3 separate regions of the Homo sapiens genome follow, and all the other regions are linked to region 2. Evidence: fine-mapped expression QTL. A gene starts in region 2. Each other region holds a variant in brackets. All regions are shown on one strand. Distances are from middle to middle.

Region 1 (7,867 bases), 56 kb after region 2:
CACCGCCTTTGTGGAGCTGATGGTCTAGTAAAGGGGACAGACAGTGAGCACCGAACAGATACAGATCATCTGTGATTTTGTAATATCCAAACTACAGCATCAGGTGGTGCTATGAGGAACAGTCTAGATTCACACACAGAATGTTGGGGGTGCCATTTTGGACAGGGTGGTAAGGGAAGACTTCTCCACATTTGATGAGATGAAAACGGGGAAATGGGGGCAGCATTCCTGCCCAAGGGAGCAGGAGATGCAAAGGCTGCTGTTTCAGGAGCCTCAGGGGTGCTGGTGCAGCTGGGTGGAGTGCCTTGGGGGAGCTTGGGAGTAGCTGAGGTCTGAGGGAGCCGGGGGCCATGCTGGGCTTCACAGGTCCTGATGTGGCCTCTGGATTCCATTCTTCATGTGATGTGAAGCTTTCATGGGGAGCAGATTGAGTAGGGACCTGATGTGATGTGACTTTTGATTGGAGAAAAATCCCTCTTTTTTTTTTTTTTTTGAGACGGAGTCTCGCTCTGTTGCCCAGGCTGGAGTGCAGTGGCGCAATCTCAGCTCACTGCAAGCTCCGCCTCCCAGGTTCACGCCATTCTCCTGCCTCAGCCTCCCAAGTAGCTGGGACTACAGGCACCCACCACCACACCCAGCTAACTTTTTGTATTTTTTTTTTTAGTAGAGACGGGGTTTCACCGTGTTAGCCAGGATGGTCTCGATCTCCTGACCTCGTGATCTGCCAGCCTCGGCCTCCCAAAGTGCTGGGATTACAGGCGTGAGCCACCGTGCCCGGCCGAAAAATCCCTCTTTTGAGTTTGAGTGGTGAGAGTGGAAGCCTGGGACCTCCTAAGAGACTCCTAGAGTCATCCAGGTGCGAGAAGGTGTCTTGGCCATGGGGATGGCAGAAGAATGGTGGGAAGTATCAGATTCCAGTTGTGTTTTGGAGGAAGAGCTCATGTGATTTGCTGATGGATTGAATGTGAGGTGTGTGACAGAGGAAGAAGAGTCAAAAAGGACTCTTAAGGTTTTGGTTTAAACAACAGTGGTGCCATTTACGGGGTGAGGGAGCCCTGGAAGAGGGGCACCCTGGGGCAGGGGGAATCAAGAGTTTGATTTTGCCTGTACTGTTACTTAATTATAAAAAAGAAAATCAGGCTAGGCATGGTGGCTCATGCCTGGAATCCCAGCCCTTTGGGAGGCTGAGGCAGGAGGATCACTTGAGGCCAGGAGTTCCAGATCAGCTCGGGCAACATAGTGAGATTCAGTCTTTAAAAAAATTAGTGAGGCATGGTGGTATGTGCCTGTAGTACTTAGGAGACTTAATGGGGTGATTGCCTGAGCCCAGAAGTTTGAGGTTGTAGTGAGGCTATGATCCCCTCACTGCACTCCAGGCTGGGTGACACAGCAAGACCTGTTTAAAAAAAAAAAAAGAAAGTAAGCTTAAAATCAATTTTTTAAACTTCGACATGTCCTGAGCAATTATATCTGAGATCATAGGTGCTGCTATCTGTGTAATTTATCTAAAGGATGTTAAAATAAATACATAGCCACTAAAATAAAAAGGTCCATGGGGGTACCACCTATACCCATTGCATACACCCAGCTGCTGCCCTAGCACATTGGAAGTGCCAACAATGATTATTAGCCCCTTTAAGAATGAATGAGGAGCTCTTTAGGATGACGACATGGAGAACCTTCAATGAAAACTCCGGTGGGAGAAGTGGGGGCCAGGAGTGGAGCTGGTCTCAGAGAAGTGGGTCATCCGGAAGGTTGGAGGTGGTGGGGGCATTGGGGCCTTGGAAGCTTTTTGGAGAGAAAGGTCTGCTGCTCCCCTGCTCCGAGCCCTCTTCCTGGGGTTGTGAGTCTCCCTTTCTGAGCTTCCTTTTTGCTTCTAAGGAATGTGGGTGCTTTTACCACAAAAACACTTGGCCTTTTCATAGCATAATTTGGTATTCAAGCTGTGGCCTGAGCTTGGAACCATTCTTTGTCCATTTCTGCTGCCCAGGACTTTGAGATGAGTCTGTGTGGGTACTTTGTGAACTATTATGTGACATGGACACATATATACATGAGGAGTGAATGCTTACATCATGCACAGGGTGTTTGTAAAGGCCTTGTTGGGTTAAATACTGTTGGATCACTGTAGAAGCTTTTCATACCGAAACATTAATTTTGGAAACTCCTTCACAAAATCAAATCAAAATTAGGTCTTTTGAAACAGGCTTCTTAACGTATTCTTGTGAAATTTCTCATGAGCAGTTCATTTCTCAGACATGGAAGAGTTAAGTCCTGCGTTCGCTGTTGTGTGTGTTGCAGTGGCTCCGCGATGAGGCTGTGCTGAGTGAGAGACGCCCCCTTCTCAGCTTCTCGCAGACTCTTGCTCCCTGCGCTCCAGCGCCGCTCACGGCTGGTGCTGGCAGGCCTGGCATTTGGGGGCGTGGGAGAAAGTATGCATCAGTGTGTGCAGGGGTGGAGGGGTGGGTGGTTTGTGTGAATAGAAAGTACATGACCTTTCTGAAAATTGTTCAGAAATGTGGAGGAAGGAAGCGAGAGACTTGGCAGTCCTGTAGGCTTTAATGGAATCAGCAATGGAC[G/A]CTCGGTATGGCTAATCCTCGATGGAGATGGAAAGGGACGGGAGAACACGATCCAAGCCTACTCAGCTGCAGCAGCGTGAGTCCGCTGGGGAACACGGAGAAGACCAGATACTCTCACTCCCACTTGGTAGAACCTCCTGAGGTTCTCCGGCCACTGTAGTGAACCAGTGTCTGGCGAGCGCCCGAATTACGTGAGAAACTGCCCATGTGTCATTGGATCTAAGACACCAATGTTTTAAGGACACGTCAGTGTTTTGTCTATTGCTCAGAAAGAGAACTCACAGCTAATTAACTTGTAACATACCAACTCCAGAGACGTTAACATGTGGAAAATGTAGGTCTTCAAATCAGTGAAATAAGGTAATCTAATTAACAATACCAGGCTATAGCACAATGGTTGCCACAGGGCCACTTTGGGAGGCCAAGGCGTGTGGATCACAAGGTCAGGAGTTCAAGACCAGCCTGGCCAAGATGGTGAAACCACGTCTCTACTAAAAATACAAAAAATTAGCCGGGCATGGTGGCACGCACCTGTAATCCCAGCTACTCCAGAGGCTGAGGCAGAGAATTGCTTAAACCTGGAGGGGCAGAGCTTGCAGTGAGCCAAGATCGCGCCACTGCACTCCAGCCTGGGCGACAGAGTGAGACTGTCACCAAAAAAAAAAAAAAAAAAAAAGGAATCATTTGAGTGAAAGATAGTTTCTTGAAGATGGTCAGTGGATGATTGAGGTTTGGGAATCATGGGCCTCTGGCCCTAGTTGGATTTGAGCAGTGCCTTTAGGGTAGATAGGACTTAAAAAGACAGAAAGGGACAGGCTTTGCCTTACCATGGGTACTTTTACATATGCTCTTTGGGTAATTTTTTTCTTACTCTTTCTTTATTTTTTTTTAATTTATTTTTTATTTTTGAGACGGAGTCTTGCTGTGTCGCCCAGGCTGGAGTGCAGTGGCGCCATCTCGGCTCACTGCAAGCTCTGCCTCCCGGGTTCACACCATTCTCCTGCCTCCGCCTCTGGAGTAGCTGGGACTACAGGCACCCACCACCACGCCCACCTAATTTTTTTGTATTTTTAGTAGAGACGGGGTTTCACCGTGTTAGCCAGGATGGTCTCAATCTCTTGACCTCATGATCTGCCCGCCTTGGCCTCCCAAAGTGCTGGGATTACAGGCGTGAGCCACTGCGCCCGGCCTCTGGTCACAGTTTTTTAGAGATTGTTTGGAACAGTGAGTAGAAGGCCTTGTCTGTACAAGATACACAGCTGAGTGAGATTGTTAATCTGTCAAAGGGCAAAATTCAAAACTTTCGACAGTCTGGAAGGCTGGGATGAATGCATTAAGATGTAATTCGACTGATATAAATTTAGATTTAAAACAACCTTCTATAGTAGTTTGGCTGGGGGAGACAGACATGGTAGAAACTCACAGGAAAAGGACTTTGTTATTTTACATTACATAGAGGCTAGATGCTCATCTTCTCTTGGGTATATGAAAGCTGTTGATTTGCATACTTTGATTTTCTATCCTGCCGCCTAACTGATTTCTTTTTCTGTTTGCATTAGTTTTTCATTGATTCTTTAGGGTTGCCAGGCGTACTGTCCTATCAACTGCAAATAGAAATGACTTCTTTCCCGGTTTTTATGCTCTCATTCTTTACTCTGTCTAACTGCCTGGGCTAACACCTCCAGTTCTGTGTGAAGTAATAGAGTGGGCAGCCTTGCTATGGCCCTGATCATTTGTTGTTGTTTTGTTTTTTTTTTTTGAGAGGGAGCCTCACTCTGTCTCCCAGGCTGGAGTGCAGTGGCGTGATCTCGGCTCACTGCACGCTCTGCCTCCCGGGTTCCAGCGATTCTCCTTCCTCAGCTTCCCGATAGTAGATGGGACTACAGGCGTCTGCCACCACGCCCGGCTAATTTTTTGTATTTTTAGTAGAGACGGGGTTTTGCTGTGTTAGCCAGGATGGTCTCGATCTCCTGACCTCGTGATTCGCCGGTCTCGGCCTCCTAAAGTGCTCAGATTGCAGGTGTGAGCCACCGTGCCCAGCCTAATTTTTTGTATTTTTAGTAGAGACGGGTTTTCACCATGTTAGCCAGGATGGTCTCAATCTCTTGACCTCGTGATCTGCCCGCCTCAGCCTCCCAAGGTGCTGGGATTACAGATGTGGGCCACCATGCCCAGCCCTATGGCCCTGATCTTAATGAAGTGTTCCCCACTGAGTAAGTTGCCAGCATTAGGGCTGAAGTATACAGAGTAGCATGTTCAGAAAGGAGCCATCAGTTTCTGTTTTCTGGAGTGTTTTTACCAAGAATGGACCAAGACTCCTTAGATAAACAATAGCACTAGTGTCCATACTTACTGACCCAAACACCATTTGCCAGTTTATAAAATAATAAATTCCAGAAATATTACTGCCTCAACATTATGAAAATCAGATTTCCTAAAAAAGTACTTAGCAGTGTTGAAATATCTAGACACTATTCACGGGTACTTAATGAACAAGGCACGTGCTCAGTAGATTGATTGCCGTCAGACACACAGTTTTTCTCATTTGGGAAAGTTAGTTATTCCCACATCAGCCAAATACAGCACAGCATACAGTGGTCAGTAGATCATCAGCTTACTCCTGGTCTCCTGTTGTGAAACGCTCTCAGATGAATTGTTCTTGTGCCATGACACACCAACGTGGCAAGTTCCTCAGTTGCCTGTTTGAGCTTGTTTCTTTCTTTACTTGTGGAAGACAATTTCACTGGCGTTTTTTGTTTTTGTTTTTGTTTTTTGAGACGGAGTCTCGCTCTGTCATCCAGGCTGGAGTGCAGTGGCGTGTGCGATCTCGGCTCTCTGCAACCTCCACCTCCTGGGTTCAAGCAATTCTTCTGCCTCAGCCTTCCGAGTAGCTGAGACTACAGGCGCTTGCCACCACACCCGGTTAATTTTTGTATTTTTAGTAGAGACAGGGTTTCACCATATTGGCCAGGCTGGTCTTGAACTCCTGACTTGGTGATCCACCCACCTCGGCCTCCCAAAGTGCTGGGATTACAGGATTGATCCACCGTGCCTGGCCTCACTGGCCTTTTTTAATAGTGTATGTCTAATGTGGAACAGACCCATAAGTTGCTTGGGTCTTATTTATTTGGCTGGGAAACTATGGATTTTTTTAGAAAGATTCAAGTCCTTGGAAGCCTGTGTCTGTCCCTTATGGGAATTAGATACTGGCAGAGGAGGTAACTGTGATTACAGCATCGAAGACAGGTTTTGCATTGTGGTGACACATTTGTGTTAATATTATTCATCTCATATGAGAGGATGAGTTCATCTTAATCTCATTTTTAATCACAGCCTTCTAGAAAATAGAAATATCTTTTCCTCCCATGCTTTAAAACACCTGTGGCACTTTGGGGTGCTAAATATTGACTTCTTTGGCCATCTTTTCAGGAGGAAGACATGGGATACTCCTGACTGGGTAGATGCTTTTGTATTTCTGCTTAACCTCATAATTAATTTCATTCCAGCTGGTGGCAGGAGACAGACTAGAAAAGGAGCTACCTTTGGAAGTATATTTGCCTGGTTATAGGAGACTTTTGTGAGCTCGCTGGAAATGAAAATATACTAAGCAGATCTAAGACATAGGGGATAATTGGCAACATTTATCAGTTACCTGAAGAATACTTAATTCACTGGTTATTAACTCATTCCCATGGCCCAGAGGCCTTGCACTGCCCTCCCCCCCAGGCACATACGTGCACACATATTTGCAAACACGGCATGGAGCGTCTTTCCCCTGTGCTCACTAGAGAGGCCACACCAGCCTTCTCGTGCTTCCGTAAACCTGACATGCTTTTTTCCATCTTAGGGTCTTTTTACGTTCCGCTCCCTCTGCCTGGAAGCCTCCTTCTCTGCCTTCTAGAAGGTCACTGCCCCATAGTCATTCAGGTCTGGCTCAGACGTCACCTCCCCAGAGAGGTCTGCTTTTCTGACCACTTCATCTAGAGGCCCCCACCGCCCATCACGCTGTGTCCCATTACCATGGTGTGTTTTCTTCCTAGCACGTAGCGCTGTCTGAGATTGCCTTATTATTGTATTGTGTGTTTGAATTCTCTCTCTCCCTAGAAGGGAGGCTTCAAATAAGGAGCCTCTCTGTTTTCTCTTCTGTGTCCGCAGTACCCAGAATACTGCCAGACTGTTGCAAATGCTCAGCAGATATTTATTGAAAGAATGTATGTAGTGATTTAATGTACTGTAATCACATAATATCATATGTGGGTCCGGAAGACCTAAGTTCCCATTTATGTTAAGAGAGGCATTAATTTTGCTTTAAAATGAAACAGTTCAAGATTAGAACTAGACCCAATTTTGTGTTACTGTGAAGCCGTTTTTCTTCTTCTTTTTGAGACTGAGTCTCACTCTGTCATCCAGGCTGGAGTGCAGTGGTGTGATCTCAGCTCACTGCAACCTCCACCTCCTGCATTCAAGTGATTCTCCTGCCTCAGCCTCCTGAGTAGTTGGAATTACAGGTGCGCACCACCACGCCTGGCTAATTTTTGTATTTTTAGTAGAGACAGGATTTTGCCACATTGCCCAGGCTAGTCTCAAACTCCTGACCTCAAGTGATCCACCTGCCTCAGCCTCCCCAAGTGCTGGGATTACAGGCGTGAGCCACTGTGCCAGGTCAGCAGTTTTTCTTTTGGCGTTGCTTGTACTGAAAGTGTTAAATTTAAGCCTGGTGTCATGAGGAGCTGAGCAGAATTGTTGCCATTTCTACTTTTTTTTTTTTTTAATTTAGTTGTGACATACTTGGCTCAGCTAGCACTTACTGCCATTTCATCTTCCTTTTTTTTTTCATTTCCATTAGTAGGGTTTGGTTATACTGTCTATTTTCAAAGGCTATTAGAAGGCGTTAGTAGCTTTTCAGACCTTGTAGTAAAATTGTGTTAATAAAAATAAATAAATAAAAGTCACCCAGTGAAGACATAAATAAGTGTAGAGACACACCATGTTAATGGATTAGAAGACTCAACATAGTGACAATGTCTACTTTCCCCAAATTGATCTGTAGATTTAAAGCAGTTCCAATAAAAATCCCAACAAGACTTGTGGATATAAGTAAGCTGATTCTAAAATTTATATGAAAAGGCAAAGGAACTCAAATAGCCAAAACAATTTTGAAAAAGAGCAAGAAGATAAGGAGACTCACACTAGCCAATTTAAAGACTTACTATAAAGCTACAGTAATCAAGAATGTAGTATTGGTGGAGGGGTAGACACATCGATCACAGGAACAGAATAGAGTCTAG
Region 2 (6,730 bases):
GTCGCCCAGGCTGGAGTGCAGTGGCGCGATCTCGGCTCACTGCAAGCTCCGCCTCCCGGGTTCACGCCATTCTCCTGCTTCAGCCTCCCGAGTAGCTGGGACTACAGCCACTACACCCGGCTAATTTTTTTTTTTTTTTTTTTGTATTTTTACTAGAGATGAGGTTTCACCGTGTTAGCCAGGATGGTCTCAATCTCCTGACCTCATGATCTGCCCGTCTCGGCCTCCCAAAGTGCTGGGATTATAGGCGTGAGCCACCGCGGATGCTGGGCATCTTTTTATGTGCTGAGTTGCCGTGTGTATATCTTCTTTGGTGAGGTGTATAACTATTCAAATCTTTTGCCCATTTTTTAAAAAGTGGGTCCTCTTATTATTATTGAGTTCGAACGTTCTTTATTTGGGATGCAAGTTCTTTAGATCTATGCTTTGCAAATATTTTCTCCCAGACTATCGTTTGTCTTTTCATACATTCTTTTAACAATGTCTTTTAAAGAACAGAAGTTCTTAATTTTGATAAAGTCCAGTTTATCAATTGTTTCTTTTATGAATCATGTTCTTCATGATTTTTTTTTTTTTTTTTTTTTTTTGAGACGGAGTCTCGCTCTGTTGCCAGGCTGGAGTGCTGTGGCGCGATCTCGGCTCACTGCAACCTCCACCTCCTGGGTTCAAGTGATTCTCCTGCCTCAGCCTCCCAAGTAGCTGGGACTACAGGAGCTCGCCACCACGCCCGGCTAATTTTTGTATTTTTAGTAGAGACCGGGTTCACCATGTTGGCCAGGATGGTCTCAATCACTTGACCTTGTGATCCATCCACCTTGGCCTCCCAAGGTGCTGGGATTACAGGCGTGAACCACTGCGCCCGGCCTTCTCTTGTGCTTTCTTCTAAAAGTTTTATATAGTCATAGTAGACACCTTATAAGTGTGCTGGATTAAATGTGAAAATGTATGTAAAGCCCTTAGCACAAGGCCTGGTAGAGACTAAACAATCAGCTGAGCCTAAGATGGACATTGACTATGTAATTTTTATAAGGAGCACCCTCAGGCCCAGCACACATTTCCTCCACACAGATGTTGTGTCCTGTCATCACAGAATGGCAGGATACCAGAGAAGCAAAAGCCTCCACCCATATCCTCATCCAACCTGCTCCTGGAACCAGTGAAGGTGACTGCAGACATAGAGAGGCCATAGAGCTACAGGGCAGCAGGAGAGCCAGCCCTGGAAGGTGGCCCTTCCCCTGCAGGGAGCACTCCTCCATCTAGCCTCCGTTTCCATGAAACCTGGAGGTCTAGCCCAAGCTGTGATGGGGTGATGGGGACTAGGCTCTGTTTACTGAGCACCTACTGTATGCTAGGCCCTTGGGTAAGGCATTGAATAAGTTAGACAACACCTGGGCCTCGGGAGCTCACAGACTAGCAGCAGAAGAGGCCATGAACAAATGATTGCGTAATTAATTGCTAGATTCAGGAAAGGGGCAACGTTCTGGGGTAGGAGGGGATGGGGAAGAGGAAGTCTCAGCCGCCGCCTCTGTGCCAGGCCCCTCCAGGCTGGGGGTGGGAGGGTGCGCGGGCACAGGGACACACATGACGTCATCGTAAGAGGCAGGGGAAGGGTGGTCCTGGGAGGTGGGGGCTGCTCTGGAGGGCTGTAAGAGAGGGTCATTCACTCGTGGTTCATTCATTCGAGAAATATTCATGCGGCGCCTACTGCGTACCAAGCACCCTCTAAGAAGGACGAACACAGCTCCTGCCCTCTCATTATATTTGGGGCCGACAAAGTGGCAGGAAACAGCCAAACAAATCAAGCGTGAAGATGGTTTCAGCAGAGCCGACGGCTCAGAGGGGCTGCGACCGGGGCAGGGGACCGGGGATGCGGGGCAGGGACACGGCCCACACTTGCTGTGCACGCACCGCCCTCCCCCAAACACTTTGCAAAGAGGTCACCGCACTGGCTGCGAGCGCGCCCTGAGCCCCGGGCCGCAGCACGCGCGCCCCCGCGCCCGAGGTCGCGCGCTGCCCAGCCCCCCGCCCGCGCCCCGCGAGCTGCGCCCGCCGCGCACGACGCCCCCTCGCGGGAGCCCTGGGCCGCCGGCCGCGCGCGCAGGGGAGGGGGCGGGGGCGCCGCGCACGCGCACGGGCCGGCGGCGCGCGCCGAGCGGGGGGCACCGCGCGGGTGCAGCCACGATGGAAGGGGGTGCGTACGGAGCGGGCAAAGCCGGGGGCGCCTTCGACCCCTACACCCTGGTCCGGCAGCCGCACACCATCCTGCGCGTCGTGTCTTGGGTAAGGACGGACTGGCCGACGGCTCTGCCAGGCCGGGGTGGTGGGGGTGTGAGCAAAGGCGGCGCGCCCGGACCGACCCCGACCCCGACCCCAACGGGCCCCCGGCGGCGGCGCGGCGGCGGGCGAGGAGCTGTCCTGCCTGCGGGGCCCGCTGCCGCCGCTCCTCCTTCCCGGGCCCGGGGCGGGCGGGATCCCTGGTGCTCGCGGGAGACGCCGCTCCGGCTCCCGGAGCCCTGGTTTCCTGGGGCCCCCGGTTCGTGCGCCCCCCTTCCCGCCCCGATTGCTGTGACCTCCAGGCCGCGGCTATGCCGCGAAAGGCTCGGATTGTGCGCGGCCGCCAGGGCGGACTGGGGACCGTGGGGACGGAGCCAGGGTTTAAGGTGGCCTTTTTTGGGGGGTGGATCAGGGCGTGGACCATCTCGGTGGGGTGCATGCCGCGCCTGCGATGGACGTTGGAGGAGGAGAGGGCCGGGAACCGGGTTCGTATTGCCTAGCCCGGCCCGTGTGGAGCGATGAGTCGGGAACTGAGTACCTCTCTTCCACCCGGGAACTGCCTCTCCTTCTCTGCGTGACCTTGGGCTGGGAGCCACCCAGGAAATGTTCTCGAGAAATGAGGACTTCAATTCCGAGGTGGGGAGTGTCATCTCCTCTCTCATGCCTCAGTTTCCCAATTTATAGACAAGGTGGGCGGAGCCTTCTTGAGGCCCCCTTGGGCTCTGACATTTCATGAACCGGTAACACCCCTCCCACTCAGCATGCACCTGGATGCCCAAGGCGGGTGTCTGGGAGAAAGGTCTGCTCCCACAGTGAAGAGGCCAGGGTGGCCTCCAGCCTAGCTGGGGGGCAGGGTCCTCAGTGCAGAGGGCTGAGTGGGCTCTTGTTCAGACGGGTGGTCAGGGAGAGGATGGGTCAGAGACAGTGAGCACAGAGGGAGGGGTTCAGGTGCCTTGAGTGGCACCTCATGGAAAGAAGCCCTGCTGGGGTCTGGAGAGGGGGTTTCTGGGGCTCCCTGGGTTTGGCTGGCTGTATCCCAGAAACTCCCACTCGAGGTTCTGGCCTCTGCAGGCCTGGGGCCCGTTCCTTGTGGGCTTAGACTAGGAATGGGCTAGACTGTCAGGGACCCCAGGGGCTACCCCAAGGCCAGCTGTGACCTCAGGGTGCCCAAGCTTCCTCCTTTCCTTGGTTTTCAGGGTCTGGTTGGTAGGATGGCTTGGGTATGTATCCCTGGTCTGCGAAGGATGACCCCATTTAAAGCCTTTTCTTCTCAAATGCCGTCAGATGGGAGCTGTTTGAGGGCAGGAAAGCCCAGTTCCTTTAACCCTTGTGTCGGTGCCTGCACAGAGCCGGGCACCCCAGCACATCTGTGTTTGTGGCTCTGAATTCATTTATCTGTGCCAGTCTCCTGCTCCCCAGATGCCCCAACAGACCCTTGCCAAAGGTGGGAGCCCTGGGGGGCACCTGCCGGATCAGGCGGGTGGGCTGCGTTCACTGCTTTAGTCTGCCCACCCCTGGGCCTCTGGCCTGGAAGGGCGAAGCCACTGGCTTTGTGAGGGGGCTTGTCTGCTTGGGTCATTTCTGCCTCTGATGCCTTCATTTAGCAAAGCTTTATTGAATCTGCTGGGCCCCAAGGGAAGGCAGCGTGACTCAGAAGCAGCCCTTGTTCTCGGGAAGCCACAGTCCCACTGGGGAGTGAGCCAGGTGCCCCCAGGCAGAGGCCGCAAGAGCCAGGAGAGGGGTCTCCCTGCTGTGGAATCAAATTTCATGGTGAAGGTGATGTCAGATTGGGCCTGGTGGGATGAGGGTTTATACATATGCACATCCAGGGGAGAGGACGTGGAAAGCAGGAGGAAGGATCAGCCCCTCTGAGCACCCATGGGGTGCAAGACCACACACAGCTACCTAGCTGGTTCCCCAACACTAGAGGAAGCTGCGGCTCAGCGAGCGAGGCCAAGTGCCTGGCCCAAAGTCACTAAGCATGTAAGTGGCAGACGAGCATTTGAGCCTAGGTCTTCCTGTCTCCAAAGAGTAGTTCTCCCCCTGGGGCAGGGAAGAATCCAGAATCCTGGAATGTCAGGATTGGAAAGGACACAAAGGTCACCTGGACCAACCAATGCTCAAACGACCCCACAGCCTCCCAGTCCTGCTCACACACGTGGATACAAGGCGCTCACTACCTTTGTCGAACCAAGAGGTGTCTGATACAGGCTGATTGACACCTTTAAAAGTAGCTTTTTTTCCTGATCAGAGTAATACCTGCCAATTATTGGAAAGTATAAAAATCACATGTGATGGTTGCACGGTAGGAATGTACTTAACACCACTGAAATGGTGAAGATGGTAAATTGTATGTTACGTGTGTTTTACCACAACAGAAAAAGTTTGGTGGGGGGTGGTAATCATGTGATACCACCACTTAGGGAGGGCTGCAGTGAATAGGGTGCTGTCTCCTTCTGGTCTTTTCGAAACTGTGTGGCGTGCTGAGCCATTTAAACACATCAGGAGCTGCGGGGGATGCAGCTGGCGCCTGCTCTTGGCCCTCACACCACAGGGCAGAGCAAGTGAAGCTGAGCTCCAGGACCAGGGTGACCCGTTTATCCTGGTGTGCTGGAACTTCCTGCCTTTAGCATTCTGAGAGGCCCTTAGTCCAGACAAACAGGGACAATTTGTCACCCTGTCCAGGACTCCTGGACAACCCAGACCCCTACCACAGCCCTGGAGGGGCCCTAACAGCATGTGCACATGAACCTGTGATTGTTTTTTTTCTTTTTTTGAGATGGAGTCTTGCTCTGTTGCCCAGGCTGGAGTACAATGGTGCCATCTCGGCTCATTGCAACCTCCGCCTCCCAGGTTCAAGCAACTCTACTGCCTCGGCCTCCCAAGTAGCTGGGACTACAGGCACACACCACCACGCCCAGCTAATTTTTGTATTTTTAGTAGAGATGGGGTTTCACCATGTTAGCCAGGCTGGTCTCGAACTCCTGACCTCAGGTGATCCACCTGCCTTGGCCTCCCAACGTGCTGGGATTACAGGCGTGAGCCACCGCACCCGGCCTGGACCTGGGATTTTTGTAAAATTTGTAAAAGAAAGATTTTTTTTTCTGTTGCTTTTCCAAAAGAGGGCCCCCAAATCATGTAAGCTTCAGGGCCTCACCAACCTGGACCCACCCTGGAACCCAAGCCCTCTGAGCCCCTGGGTCAGCCTGCACAGAAGCAGGGCCTCCAAGACCTGGCTTGTCTCTTTTTTATTTTTTTAGAGACAGGATCTTGCTGTGTTGCCCAGGCTGGTCTCAGACTCCTGGACTCAAGTGATCCTCCCACCTCAGCCTTGTGAGCAGCTGGGACGATGAGGCGAGGCGTGGGCCACTGCATCCGGCATGGCTTGTCTCTTGACTAAGGCTTTCTCACCTCTTGGTGTCATCGCCCCAGTGGCAGATCAGCTGCCACTCCTGGCACCCCCAGGCCACAGCTGTGACCTTCAGTAAGTGTCCCCTCCCCACCCTCTGTGCCTCAGTCTTCCCACCCGAACTGGGCTGGGCTGGGTCAGAAGTGCCTGATCTGTTGCGCGGTGACTGCCGCCTGTCAGTGACTCATTTCTTTGTTCTAAAGCCAGATGGGAAAAAAAGGAGTTACAGCAAGAAGCTAAACTGATTTAATAGAAAGGACCACCTTTTATTTGGAGTTTATATTCTTTTTTGCAGGGGGCTAAGATGGACTATAGGGAATGAATATCAGTGCTGGCAGATGAGTTTTTTGTTTGTTTGTTTTTTGTTTTTGAGATGGAGTCTCGCTCTGTCTCCAGGCTAGAGTGCAGTGGCGCGATCTTGGCTCACTGCAACCTCTGCCTCCTGGTTTCAAGTGATTCTCCTGCCTCAGCCTCCCAAATAGCTGGGATTACAGGCACCCACCACCATGCCCAGCTACTTTTTAAATTTTTAGTAGAGACGGGGTTTCACCATCTTGGCCAGGCTGGTCTCAAACTCCTGACCTAGTGATCCACCCGCCTCAGCCTCCCAAAGTGCTGGGATTACAGGTGTGAGCCACCGTGCCCAGTCAATGTTTCTTTAATTCTCTACTTTGACAAAATGAAAATGATAAAATGTTTGAAATGTTGCCATTTTCAGGGTTCATTTTTTAAGGGCTTTGGCCATAATACCACATGGTTCTGTAAGTGGGGTGGGTATCTTCCCCCCGTTTTACAAATGACAGAATTAAGGCTCAGCCTGGAGAAGTGACTTGTGCTAGCTCAAGGCCTGGGCTTGTCAGAGACTTGGTTTGAACCCGGACTGCTGGGCTCCACATTCTGTGTACTCCCTGTGGGTTCTCTGCCTGGATATCCATGGCACCAAGGGGTGGCCTGAGGGGGGCAGCTTCATACCCCTGGTTTTATTCACCCCCTCCACTCCACCCCCCATCATCCCAAGTGAACACTGAATAAAAAAGCTGAACTTGG
Region 3 (7,867 bases), 30 kb after region 2:
GCCCCATCCCAAGAGCCCTCCCCATAACCCACAGCTGCCTCCCCTCTGGACCGGCGAGCACTTCTGGGCCCAGCCTCCTGCAAGGAGACTCTTGAGGCTACATACAGGCCGCCAGCCGTCCCTGTTTCCCCCATCCTTCTGGTTTGCCCCGGGTTGACGTCTTTTTCTTTTTGAGGGCCCCTGGATATCCATTTTTGAGGGGTACACCCATCTCCCCAACAATATTAGAAGATAGCATTTGGAGGGGGAGACCCGTGGTTCAGGCCCTAGTGGGCCAGCCTTGGCTGCTCCACCCCTCAGTGTCCTCAAGACTGGGTAGGAAGAACCAGGTGACCCCAGGGGATCTCAGTCCAGAGAAGGTGCCCCAGAAGTGGGGACCACCCAGCCTACAGGGAGGAGTTTAGGGGCGGGGCTCACAGAGGAGTAGTGGATGATTTCTAGCCATGGGTCTGAAGTACCTGACCAACAGGTGCCTGCCCGGCCCCCTGAAGCCAGCCTCCCTCCTGGCACCTCTGCAGCTCTTCCCCACTGGCCTCACCCCTACTCTCTCCTGGCAGAGCCTGACCGCAGCCCTGGCCGTGCGGAGATTCAAGGACCTAAGCTTCCAGGAGGAGTACAGCACACTGTTCCCTGCCTCGGCACAGCCGTAGGCCTCCCCGGCTTGCAGAGGCCGGCAGCCCTGTATCACCCCTGGCAGTGAGGTGGCAGGAGCAGCCTAGTGCCAGAAATGTCCAAGATGCCAGGGCATGCAGGGCAGTGGAAGGCTGGCTTGAGGAACCAATTCAGGTTCTCCACTGACTCATTCATTCCTTCACCGCCTCCTTCATTGATTCTTCATGCGTTCATTCATTCAGTAAACATTTATTGAGCAGCTGTTTTGTGCCTAGTGATGAATTAGGTGGGGTCCTTGGCTCCAGGAGCCCACAGGCTGGGGAGGAGAAAACAAACACATCAATATCTCTTCCAAATGGACAGCCGTGGACAGTTACCAGGTAGGTAGCGGCCCCATACATGGGCTGCCTAGAGGCGTTCATGGTCCCCATTGCTGAGCTGTGGGTGCAGAGCAATAGCCTCTCCCTTCACAGCGGTGTGAAGAGTGACCTCACTGTCCTTAGGGTTAGCATCCTGGCCGAGGATGTCACAGGGCTCCTGGTCTGGCTCTGTCCTCATGTGCTATGTGACCCTGACAAACCCGTGCACCTCTCTCAGCCTCAGTCCACTTACCTGAACTGAGGGGTGATAATGGACCAACCTCTCAAGGCTGTTGTGCCAATGAAACAAAGGCCAGCCCAGGGCTTAGCACAAGCATGCTCAATAAATGTAAGCTCTTTTGTTCATTCATTCATTCATTCATTCATTCTTCTCTCCAGAGAGTCAGGGGCACCTCCAGAATCTCTACTTTAAGAGTAATTCTCATGTGATGAATCCTTGTTCCTCCAAAGGATTTTGGTCTCTGGTTCTACACAGGTTTCCTGCTTGAGGCCCCCAGCTGCCTGGGCAGGAACTCACCCATTCCTCCACTCTCTGCTGGAGTTGAGGAGGCTGGTGGAGCACAGACAGTTCCCCCAAAGCAATGCCTCAACCCTGCGAGGGCCTGAGCACATCGAGAGTGAGCTTCCTGGCACTGGAGGCATCCCAGTGCAGATGCAGACTGCCTGCTGCACGCTGGAGATGCTGCAGAGAGAGCACCTACACTGAGAAAGTGGGGCCAGGGGACCACCAGGTCCCTGGGCTCTCAGTAGAACTCCCATCCTCCCTCTGCAGCCCAGGCCAGCGGGGGCCCAGGCCTCTCCTTTGCTCCTGTCTTGTGGCCCCTTAAACTGGTTGCCCAAATGAAGCTTTGACTTAGTGAGGGCAGAGAGCTGAACACAGAGACAGTATGAGTGCCTACAGCCAGAGGCATCTCCCTAGAAGGATCAGTAGGGGTCATCTGCTCCAGCCCTCTGCCTCTGTACAGGAAACCAGCCTGGATAGTAGAGCCAGGGAGCTCGGGGAGAACCGCGTCTACAGACATTGCTCTCAAGGTTCATTCAGTCAGTTCCTGTGGGCTGGCCAGGGCTCAAGTGTACCCTCAGGGGGCTCTTCACCTCCCCTGCTTCTTCAGGCTCCGGCGTCTGAGCCCCCAGCAGCCAGGACCTCATGCTAACATAGTGGGAAACCCCAGAGGGCTACACCTTATCCCTTAGCCCAATTTCTTTAGACCTAGTCTGCCTTTCCCAAGGTGCTGGCACTTTGCTTTAAATACCCACCTCCCAGAAAGTGCTTCCCCTCAGAACTTTGGTCAATGAGTACAATCAAAAGGTAATGCCCTAGCTGGGCATGGTGGCTCATGCCTGTGATCCCAGCACTTTGGGAGGCCAAGGCAGGCGGATCACCTGAGGTCAGGAGTTTGAGACCAGCCTGGCCAACATGGCAAAACCCCGTCTCTACTAAAAATACAAAAATTAGCTTGGTGTGGTGGCGGGTACCTGTAATCCCAGCTACTTGGGAGGCTGAGGCAGGAGAATCACTTGAACCCAGGAGGCAGATGTTGCAGTGAGCCAAGGTTGTGTCATTGCACCCCATCCTGGGTGACAGAGCGAGACTCTGTCTCAAAAAAAAAAAGAAAAAAAAAAAGGAAATGCCCAGTCACTGGGTTTCTGGAACTTTGTGGAATAAAACGCTAGGTATATTCACTCTCTACCTCTTCACTAAGTGGCTCTTTAGGTTGTTGGTTGACTTAGTGCCTCGTCAGGGGCCAGTGAAAGGGAAGGAGGTGAGGGCGCCCTGACCTGGGAAGGGGTAGGACCCCATGTTTAGGGAAGGGTTCTAGCAGTAACTCTGCCACGGGCACTTCCTTTTCTAGGCCTCAATCTTCCCAGCCCTAAAACAGGGGTCTGGAGAGTATCAGCACATTCCCATCACAGGCAGATTCCCCGGGCCGGGAAAGTTTCTGGAGAAGGCTTTTGCAATAAACCTCTAAGCTGCTTTTCTAATGACAAGTTTGATTTACTTAAACTTTGACTTAGCTCAGTGTGGTCAGTGTCATTGTCCTTAATAACAATGTAATTGCTTTTATTGAAAAATAATTTCCTAACCATGCATGTGTGCTGTAGACAAGTCTTTCCCAATCTGAGATCTGTGAAAAAAAAAAAAAAAACGGGGCGGCTTCAGGCTAGGCGCGGTCACATTGAATAGTCAGGGCTCTGCCAAGTCAGATGATCCTGAAACTTGTTTCACTCTATTTAACTCAGTTTCTCACTTAGAATTAGGTTCAGCAGCAGGTGACCGAAATCCCAGATAACAGTGATTTCAACAAAGTCCAAGGCTGTGGAAGTGGTCCAGGGCTGGCATACTGGCTCCAGAGGTCTTCGGTGACCCAGGCATCTTTCCTTTTTTTTAGAGACAGGGTCTCACTCTGTTGCCCAGGCTGGATCATAGCTCACTGCAGCCTCAAACCCATAGGCTCAGGCAATCCTCCCACCTCAGCCTCCTGAGTAGCTGGGACTACAGGCCAGTACCACTATGCCCGGCTAATTTGGTTTTTGTGGATTTTTTTGGTAGAGATGGGGTCTTGCTATGTTGCCCAAGCTGGCCTTTTTTTTTTTTTTTTTTTTTTTTGAGACAGTCTCACTTTGTTGCCCAGGCTAGAGTGCAGTGGCGCTGTCTCAGGGTACTGCAACCTCCGCCTCCTGGGTTCAAGCGATTCTCCTGCTTGCACCTCCCGAGTAGCTGGGATTACAGGTGATGCCACCATGCCCAGCTAATTTTTTTAATTTTCAGTAGAGATGGGGTTTCACCATGTTGGCCAGGCTGGTCTCAAACTCCTGACCTCAAGTAATCTGCCCATCTTGGCCTCTCAAAGTGCTGGGATTGCAAGCATGAGTTGTCGCGCCTGGCCTCTCCTGCTTTCAAGAAGAAGATCAGATTGTTATTGTGCCTGCTGTTTTTCAAGTGCCTTTAACTCAACATAGTCAATATGCCAGAGGTGCATATTTTAGCCCAGGCTGGTCTTGATCTCCTGGCCTCAAGCAATCCTTCCACCTTGGCCTATCAAAGTTGTGGGATTACAGGCATGAGCCGCGGTGCATGGCCCCCAGGCATCTTTCATTCCTACAGACTTGGCTCATGGTCTTTGTGGTCCCTTTTGGCAA[T/C]TAGAGCTCCAGCCATCACATCTGTGTTCCAGGCATCAGGTCAGAGGGTGGGACAGAGAACATGAGGGTACCCCATTGGCCAAAACGTAGTCACATGGCCATGCCTAGCTGCAAGAGAGACAAAAGAATGACTCTTAGGAGATGCTAACAGTCCTTTGTCCCGCTGAGAAGCTTTTTTTAAGAAGGCTGTTGTGAGCCTTTGAGCCATCTTAACACTCCATAATGGAGATCTAGAACTTTTGGTAGCCCAGACTGACCTCTGGGATTGGGAGACAGGGGCAGGTGATTTCTGGGGTACTTTCTGGCTGGATGATATGGTTCTGGGCATTTCCGGGGGTGGCTGCGAGAACAGCCTTCCTTCTCCACAGCCAAGCTTGGTCTCATGTTTGGTGCTTTGAGGATCTTTAACCCTCTCCTGCCTGTGTCCTGTGAACTAACCACCACTAACCCAGTGCTCTTGTCTGTCTCTCCCCTAACCACCCCCTCCCGCCTGTCCTTGTCCTCGCCGGCCTTTGTCCCCAGGCGGGCCAGGCTGTGCTGGCCTTCCAGCGGTACCAGATTGGCGCCGACTCGGCCCTCTTCTCCCAGGACTACATGGACCCCAGCCAGGACTCCAGCATGCCTTACGCGCCCTACGTGGAGCCCACTGGGCCGGATCCCGCCGGTATGGGCGGCACCTACCAGCAGCCGGCCAACACCTTCGACACCGAGCCCCAGGGCTACCAGTCGCAGGGCTACTGAGCCACAGTGACCGCCTGCCCCCGCCCCTCCCCATCTGTCCCCTCTCTCCACACCCAGCCCCTGCTCCTGCCCAGGCTGCCCTGCCCAGCGCCTCATCAGCCTCTGCCTTGTCCCACTGAGGTCCAGGGTAGCTCGGGGCAGGGGTGGGGCAGTCCAGTGTTGGGGACTGTCTACGTATGTGCAAGTATATCCCAGGGCATGTGCCCCGCAGGGGCCTAGAGGGTGGGGGCCAGGGGTATTTGCATTCATACATTGTGTCATCAAGCATTCCTTGAGCGCCTACTGGGCATCCGGCCTGTGCTGGGCATGGGTGGTGACATTGGCAGAAATGGCCACTGGAAAGGGGAGCGATGAGCTGTGGAGGAAGCCCTGGTGGTACCAGAGGCCAGAATGGTGGGAAAGACAGATCCAGATAATGCTGGGAAGTGTGGCTACACCGTGGCTTGGTCATAGGGTGAGTGTAAACACCCACAGGACACTGGGGGCTGTCACCCTGCTCTGGCAGTCCTGCTAAGAGTGTCAGGGCCGTCTCCATTTTATGGTTGAGGAAACTGAGGTCTAGAGAGGTCAAGATTACTTGCCCAGAATCACTCAGGCAGCTAGTGATAGAGGTGGGGCCAAGCCCAGGCTGCCCGACTGCAGACCACGTGCTCTTCCCTGGCCACCCACCTCCTACCATCCCCACGCTTGGGGCTTCCCTGCTCAGTGTTACTGTCATTCTGGGAGGCCTTGGGGCCCTCAGCCCCTTGAGACACCCTGATTCTGCTGCATGCCAAGGGCCTGTTCTGCCCCAGCTGTTCCTCCTCCCCTGGGGACAGCCCCACCTCCGGGTCCCTCCACCCACATCCCCCTGGTCCTACCCCTGGCCCTTGGCCTCCTCCAAGAGGGCTCACCCCGGGTGCTGCTCTGTGCTCTGCGTGTCCCACAGACGCTTGTTCCAGGGGGCTCCAGCAAACCCCTTCGTGGTCTCTCAAAGGACTGATCACTGTCCTTGCCTCTAGGAGGGGTCACTAAGCCCTTACCTAGGGCTGGGTGGACAACAAGGCACAGATGAGGGTGTGACTGGCCCGAGGTCACGGTGAGTGAGTGGCAAAGCTGGCCCTGACGCCTGGGTTTCTTGGCCCCAGCTGCCCAGCAGGTGCCTCGATTCCCTGCCCTTGTGACCTCCCAGGAAACAGAACTGATCTGGGACACTATGTCACCTCTCCTCTCATCTGGGGTCAGTCAGGGTTCGGGGGCTGCAGCAGCCAAGCGCATGAGAGGTGTTTCCTTGGCCTTCCAGAAGGCCCACTGTGGAGCCAGCCTCCCTATGGGAGGCAGAGCGGCAAGGACAGGGCTTTGGAATCAGCCAGGTCGGCTCCTGGGCTGTGGCCGTGGAGAGACACTGCCCCCAGGATGACACAGGCAAGAGCCCCTGAGGCATGGGAGGCCCAGGGAAGACCATGGGCTGTAGGGGAGAGTGTGGCAGGTGACCCAAAGGCCCAAAGAGGGCCGTGGGGCCTGAGGAGGTCATAATCTCTTCTGAGTGGGGGCAGGTCGATTCTTGCACAAGGTGGGCTCTTCACTGAGCCATAAGGGACAGGGAGGTATGGGAGAGCGCTGGGGGCCCATCCCCCTGTCCACCCAGTGTCCACTGGCCTGTCCTTCAGGGAGCAGAGCAGAGCAGGTGGTGGACGGGCCCAGTGCTGGGTGTTTTCACCACCATCCCCCCATCCCCCATCTAAGAATCCTAAGAGGCAGGCGATCCCTCACCTGCTTACTCACTCAGCAGTTACCCGGCCCCTGTGCTGGAGATACCAAGGGCATGGGTGGTCCCTGCTTCGATGGCCCCAAAGCTGGGCCAGAGTTAAGGGAAAGAGGAGGAAGTCCTAAGCAGAGAAGTAGCACCATTATCCCCATTTAACAGAAGGGAAACTGAGGCTCGGCAAGCATAGGCGAGTTGGCAGTGGAACACGGATCTAAACTCAGGTGTGTCCAAGTCCTCCCAAAGGACAGCAGTGATGGAGAGGACCCCAGCCAGCTGTGTGACAGCTGGTTGTTGCTGACTTCATTTTCCAATCCGGAGAAGGGGCTCTGTCCACAGTCCCCCGCCGCCAGGTGGCCCACATGGGACCAGCATGGGGGCAGGTTATCTGTTGGCCTGAAGAGTGAAACCTGTACCAGGCCAAAGGTGAGGGCGTGAGTGAGGGCAGGAGTGTTTATGGCAGAGTGAAGTTCTGTGCCCACCACAAGAGGCTGTGAGATGTTCTGACCCTCACCCACTGTCCACCAAAAGCCTCTCCTGCTGATGGGCACTAGGAGACCTCAGGGTACTGCCCATCTGTTTCTCCTCGGGTGCCAGCCAGCTGCTGGTGATCCTCAGCCGGAGGGCAGGGTACCAGGTAAGCTTAACTCCATCTTGGGTGTTTGTGACAGGCCCTGCCTGCCACCCTAGGCAGGGAAAGCTGTCAAGACTCCTGCCAGGAATGGGGGGTGCTGAGTCATCTCACGAAGAATCCCTCACTCTTCCCGGGTTCAGCCCAGAAGCCCTTCCAGGCATGATCTTCCCCATCAGGCTGGGCTCTGGCAGGGACCTGCCCAGGATGGAGATGAGAGAGGGTGAGAGATGGAGGGCGAGATTTGGATGGGACCCAGGGCTCCTGACTCTGCCCTGGAAGGTTCATGGGGAAACTCGCTCCTTCTGTTGGCAGAGGACAGCCCCTGGGGAACCCCAGGCCCAACTCTGTCCGGTATCCCTTTTCCTCCCAGCTGCCCTCCCCTACTTCTCCCTTGCTCCCAAAGCTTTCCTTGGAGAAGGGCCCTCCTGCAGCTGGACCCTGCAGGGTGGCTCCCTCCTCCCCATCAAGCACAAGAGAGGGCCCAGGAAAAAAGGTTTCACATAAGTGTAGAGTCGCAAGGACGCTTAGAGTCGGCAGAGTCTGGGGTAGGGAGACAGCGACTTGTCCAAGGTCAAGCACAGAGGGAGAGGTTCAGGAGTCAGGTCTTCTGCCTTC

Which allele goes with the higher level. Positions count from the first base shown, and alleles are read on the strand shown. Sizes are in standard deviations (SD) of each study's normalised expression. Not every link is listed here.
With allele G in place of A in region 1, the expression in tibial artery of the gene that starts at base 2,162 in region 2 is lower (small effect, 0.23 SD a copy in GTEx).

Evidence for each region. PIP is the estimated chance that this variant, and not a neighbour inherited with it, causes the effect.
Region 1: its variant is fine-mapped to the expression of SYNGR1 in tibial artery (GTEx, PIP 0.93).
Region 3: its variant is fine-mapped to the expression of SYNGR1 in whole blood (TOPMed, PIP above 0.99).

What each region holds. Positions count from the first base shown.
Region 1 is chr22:39,403,164-39,411,030 of GRCh38, forward strand. The region is part of intron 1 of TAB1 (TGF-beta activated kinase 1 (MAP3K7) binding protein 1); the gene reads left to right. Among named protein-coding and RNA genes, the nearest start is that of TAB1, 7.3 kb to the left of the region's middle. The variant G/A (reference allele first, on the strand shown) is at 2,580.
Region 2 is chr22:39,347,830-39,354,559 of GRCh38, forward strand. It overlaps SYNGR1 (synaptogyrin 1), which reads left to right and starts at 2,162. Exons shown (of 4, transcript NM_004711.5): 1 at 2,162-2,280. The coding sequence starts at 2,182. RefSeq lists a silencer at 2,209-2,368 and an enhancer at 3,592-3,641.
Region 3 is chr22:39,377,041-39,384,907 of GRCh38, forward strand. It overlaps SYNGR1 (synaptogyrin 1), which reads left to right. Exons shown (of 4, transcript NM_004711.5): 4 at 4,656-7,867. The coding sequence ends at 4,874. Among named protein-coding and RNA genes, the nearest start is that of TAB1, 19 kb to the right of the region's middle. RefSeq lists a silencer at 7,744-7,867. The variant T/C (reference allele first, on the strand shown) is at 4,134.